Regions from separate parts of the Homo sapiens genome. Here region 1 is linked to region 2. A link means that fine-mapping ties the variant in region 2 to the expression of a gene that starts in the linked region. Tissue or cell type: pancreas. Region 2 holds a variant in brackets; the other region holds the start of a gene. All regions are shown on one strand. Distances are from middle to middle.

Region 1 (2,674 bases), 90 kb before region 2:
GCCCAGGCTGGAGTGCAGTGACGCGATCTCTGCTCACTGCAAGCTCTGCCTCCCGGGTTCACGCCATTCTCCTGCCTCAGCCTCCCGAGTAGCTGGGACTACAGGCGCGTGCCACCACGTCCCGCTAATTTTTTGTATTTTTTAGTAGAGAAGGGGTTTCACCATGTTAGCCAGGATGGTCTCTTATCTCCTGACCTCGTGATCCACCCGCCTCGGCCTCCCAAAGTGCTGGGATTACAGGCGTGAGCCACCGCGCCCGCCCCTGGAACTCATTTTTTAAAAAATTTTTTTGAGATGGAGTCTTGCTCTGTCACACAGGCTGGAGTGCAGCGGCGTGATCTCGGCTCACTGCAAGCTCCGCCTCCCGGGTTCACACCATTCTCCTGCCTCAGCCTCCCGACTAGCTGGGACTACAGGCGCCCACCACCACGCCAGGCTGATTTTTTGTATTTTTAGTAGAGACGGGGTTTCACGTGTTAGCCAGGATGGTCTCAATCTCCTGACCTCATGATACGCCCGCCTCGGCCTCCCAAAGTGCTGGGATTACAGGCATGAGCCTCAATTTTATATTTTGCCCTAGACTCTTATTCCTTAAATCTTCCTTAAAATAGTGGTTGCAAAATGGAGGCCCATGGGCTGGATTCAGCCTGTAAAACTGTTTTGTTTGGACTGTAGAGTTAAAAAAAACAAACAAACCCTGTATTTCCAGCATCTCATTAAAAATCGTATGAGGCACCGGACTTATAGTGGTACAAGACAGCAACTGTCTCTAGCTGACAGTTGTTTCCTTTAAAAGCCGTTAAGAGTTCTTTAATTTGCGAACCCTCGCCATTCACGGAATACCTGCTTGTGTTCTTGTATTCAGGGCACTGGAGTGCGTGCCAGCTGGTCTGGAAGCAGCTCCAGCAAGTCACTTACACGGTGGCCAGGGGCGGCCTGACTTTCAATCCGAGACCCGCCGGGAATGACTTTGGGATAATCACAACCTCCGGTCCTCAGTTTCCTTACCTGTGAAATGGGGCTGATAACGCACAGCTGTGGGAAGCACCGGCCCAAACGCAGGGCTTGGGGACACGACCACCATCCCCGCCCACGGGTCCCCGCGCCAGGCTTCGCTCTCCACCCCTCCCGCCGCGGGCCCCAGCGCTTCGCCGAGGTCGGCCCCGGGCGCCAAGAGGCGTGGTCGGCCCGAGCGGACCCTCGCGGCGGCCATGGCGTCGGTGGTGGAATACAAGGGCCTCAGGGCCGGCTACCACTGCGGCTACTGCGATTCCAAGGAGGGCAAAGCGTCCTGCGGTGAGTGTTCCCGACGCCGGAGTTGGCGCGGCCGCCGCGCCCCGCACAGGCCCTCGGCGGGGGAAAGGGCAGGCTCGCACCCCGACTCCCGCTTCCCTTCCCCTCTTGACTCTCCCCATCCTGTTTCCCTTCCCGCTCTGTCTCTCCGCCTCACCCTCACTGACGACGGCGGCCCCTTATGGAGAAGGAACGGAAATAGTGGAAAGCTGCCCTCGGTCAAGATGGCGCGGGCGGCGTCAGCTCCAAGAGGCGCCGGGCCGGCCGGGCCTGCGGGCGCCCGAGTGGCTTCGCGCGAGCCTCGGGAGGCTCCCGGGCGGCGCGCTGCATTGTGGGGTGGCGGCGGCGGCCGCGCTAGCGACGCGGGGCCGGGCGGCTGAGCGTTCGCGGGGCCGAGGCCATGGCTTTCTGGGCGGGGGGTTCGCCCAGCGTCGTGGACTATTTCCCTAGCGAGGACTTCTACCGCTGCGGCTACTGCAAGAACGAGTCGGGCAGCCGCTCCAATGGTGAGCGAGCCGGGCCGGCGGGCGTGGGAAGCCGGGCGCCCGGGTCTCGGGATCCCAGGGTCCCCCAGCGAGGACGCGAGGGGGCCGGAGCCCCTGGCCCCAGTGCCACGGCCGAGACGGAGGGGGCACTCTCGGGAGGGCCGCGGCGCCGGCTTAGCGGGGCAGCTTCGCGGTGCCTGTTCTGCAGGAAAATCCTAACCGGTGCCCGTACTCTCGAAATCGTGGTGGTCTCCCCAGAGTCGGGAGACGGACGCCCGTCTGGGGTAGATTGTGTGAGGTGAAGGACGGCGCGCAGTGCCAGGGAACGCCCCAGAGCCGTAGTTAATGGCCGGGGCTGACCGGTGGGTGCTGCGGTGGGAGCGTCCCGGGAGCGAGGGCGAAACGCGGTGCAGAGGGAGCTGTGGGTGTGCACACAGGTGCCGGTCATGTATGAATCAGACTTCCCTGGACGAATGTACAGGAAGGATGAGCCCTTTGCATCTCTGGGTTAAAAAAAAAAAAAGTTAAAAAAAAAAAGGACAAGAAACTGGTGACCGCGGTCGCTACCGGCGAGGGATTCTGTTTGTCCTGATCTGTTTGAAATTTTTACCATTTGCTTATATGCCGTGTCTTTCCTCCACCCACCCGGACGACAGCAAAGCCAGCCCACAAGTTTGTTTTGTTTTTCCATCGTGATTCAGATTTCTTTGGGGGAGATTTGTTGCTGGTAAACAAAACATCGTGTTTATTTCCTCTCTTGCCATGCATTTGCCAATATAGAATGTAGACTCTATTATTTTAATAGAACAGTCTAGCTTTGTGGAAAACGAGATTCGCATGAAAACACACAGGCATTTTCCATGAAAAAGGTGTAAGTGGGGAATGATTTGGTCGAT
Region 2 (2,674 bases):
CAATACTTTCAAATAATTGCTGGTTTTTTGTTTTGTTTGGTTTTATTTTTGTATTATCACTTCACAATGTGTTATAGATTTTTCTAGGCTTCTCAGATGGATTTTTAAGGGTGAAATTTATTTCTACATAATAAGCTCTGGCCTGTGTCTGAAATATTTCATGGCTCAATAAACTGAGTGATAGTTTAGATATTGATATGGTAAATAATTAATTCCCAGCAAAATTAGCAAGAGTTCTATTGATCACCTTGTATATCCCTGCAAATACTAGAGCTGGAGAGCCGGGAGGGAGCAGGAGAGGAGCCTGAGGTCATGAAAGGTTTGCCAGTTGAGGGTGGGATGGTTGCGGCTGCTCTGCGGTCTTGTCACTTCCTTTTGGTGCTCTTGAGAAGATGAGTTGCGGAGTTTATAGAAAAGGAAAGGCAGCCAGGGGATTGACCTCTTGAAGCAAAATTGGAGAAAGTAGGTTACCAGTTGCTAATTCTGTTATTGATTTTAATGTATTTTGGTGAAATATTTTACCCTCAATTTCTTAAGTTTCTTAAGCAATCCAACAATCAATATAGTTTTATGTTTTTAGATTTATATAATGTAGCCTGTAGATTTTTATTTTTTTATTTTTTTAATTCATTTTTGTAATCAGCCTCTGCTTATCCATAGCCTGTAGATATAAGAATTGTTTGAATTGGGGATCATGAGCATGGCATTTGTTTGCATATTTTTAGAAAGATACATTTTAAAAAGGTAATTACACTCATAGACATGAATAAGACAGGTTTCTGGTTTGTCCAAGCAGACCATAAATAATAAAACAGACAACTTAATTTCAGATACTCCCTAGCACTGTGACACAAATAAAATTAGAGGTGGTGGGCATGAAGCCTGTTTTATATAGATTGGTCTTTCCTCGTAGAGAACAGGTGACATTTCAGGGGCAAAGGAAGAAGAAAAGGAATCAGTCATGTAAAAATCTGAGGGTAGGAAGAAGTTCAAGTGAAGGTTAGCAAATCTAAGTGCCTCGAGGTGGCCAGGAAAAACAAAAATGCCTTTTGGGCTCGGGTGTAGGGAAGGACGTAGAGAGCCTTATGCAAGGGGCACAGAGGCAGGTGGAGTTGGTGAGAAGGAGGCAGGTGGAGTGAGCTGGTGAGAAGGAGGCAGGTGGAGTTGGTGAGAAGGA[C/G]GCAGGTGGAATAGCACTTGTAGGAGGGTGGGGAGGTTGGGTTTTATTTATATGTGGTGCCAACCCACTGCTGGGGTGGGGGATTGGGAGATCTGATTAATATTGTAAAAGATTACTTGGCCTGTTCTGTGGAGATTATGGAGGGGTAAGAGTGGAAACAGGAGGCTGCTGGGAAGCTGCTGCAGTCATCCAAGGGCACCATAATGCTGCTTGACCCAGAATATCTGAGGTGGAGGTGGTAAGAAGTGGTCAGATTCAAGACATATTTTAGAGAGAAAGCCCAAAAGACCTGCTGATGGATTGGACATTGGGATGAGAAGAAAAGAATTAAGGGTGACTCCAAGGTTTGGGGCCAGAACAAATCCGGAGAGAGGTGATGAAATGAACTGACGTGGGCAGGACCAAGTGGATTGGTACCCTGGCTGGGTGGGCCTTCTCGGAATTGGTGGTCTTACGCTTGCTTGTGTCAGTGCATTCTTTCCTCAGTTTGAACTTTGAGAGTGGATTAATTCTGGAAATAGGATTTATTCTGTTATAGGCTAATATTGTTTAGTCTGGTTGGATTTAGAAATAATTTTAATTTAAAAATGAATTCTTACGGTAATAATTCTTTAAGGATTTAAATTTGAAGTAGAAAAATGCACAGAATATTGCATTACAAATACATTTCTTTAGAATTTCAAGCATCAATTGCTACTAATAAAGAAAAGAATACCTTCAAGAAACAAACATAAAAACAAAACTACTTTCCTCATACTTTAGAAATATACTGAAGTTTTACTAAGCACTTTCAAACTAGTCATTTAGCTGGGCAAGTAGAATGAAATTCTGTGCCAAGATTTATCAGGATGCAAATGAAAAAAAATTCATGCATAGGCGTTATAGTGGAGAGACTGACAACTTCTTACGTTTGAGTTACCTGGCTTATTCCAACAAATACAGAAAATGTGGTGAGATAACATGGTATTTCCTGCTGTCTAGTTTTAGGGGAAATAAATATTAAAGTTGTGCCTAGATAAAGGAATGAATTAGATGTCATATGCAGCTGAAAGTCTTTGCATGTAAATGGTCATAATAATAGTTATTCGTCCTGTAATTTATTGGCTTTTGAGTTTTCTAAAATGTGCTGTACTGTTTTTAACCTGTTAAGCCCAGATTCTTTGAGAACCATAGGGCATGATGAATAATAACAGGACACTGTAGATCTCTTTAATTTTATGCTGCTTGAAGTTTAGATCAGCTACTTTGTCCAATAAAGTGTAAAACCTGAACTTAGATGCATTTGCTTAAAATTATGTAGAGGGTTTTATTATTTCTTTAGTAAAAATTGTATAGTGTTTTAAAAGTAGTTTTTCTTTCAATATTTGTAATTTTTTGATAGCTTAATACCAGATTTTATCAAATGTTTACCATCAAATTACACAGATATTTGTACATTAGAACCAGAATTAACTGCCTTCAGCTTTCTTCTTTTTCTTTTCGCAGAGAAATTGCTTT

Alleles and levels. Alleles are on the strand shown, and positions count from the first base shown. SD is a standard deviation of normalised expression in the study named.
For the expression in pancreas of the gene that starts at base 1,612 in region 1, allele G in region 2 goes with a lower level than allele C (moderate effect, 0.63 SD a copy in GTEx).

The links. PIP is the estimated chance that this variant, and not a neighbour inherited with it, causes the effect.
Region 1: it holds the start of ATE1, and the variant in region 2 is fine-mapped to the expression of ATE1 in pancreas (GTEx, PIP above 0.99).

What each region holds. Positions count from the first base shown.
Region 1 is chr10:121,926,969-121,929,642 of GRCh38, reverse strand. It overlaps ATE1 (arginyltransferase 1), which reads left to right and starts at 1,612. Exons shown (of 12, transcript NM_001001976.3): 1 at 1,612-1,799. The coding sequence starts at 1,694. It also overlaps the pseudogene ATE1OSP. RefSeq lists silencers at 1,031-1,330, 1,521-1,940 and enhancers at 846-1,712, 2,251-2,400.
Region 2 is chr10:121,836,806-121,839,479 of GRCh38, reverse strand. It overlaps ATE1 (arginyltransferase 1), which reads left to right. Exons shown (of 12, transcript NM_001001976.3): 10 at 2,663-2,674. Among named protein-coding and RNA genes, the nearest start is that of ATE1, 90 kb to the left of the region's middle. The variant C/G (reference allele first, on the strand shown) is at 1,178.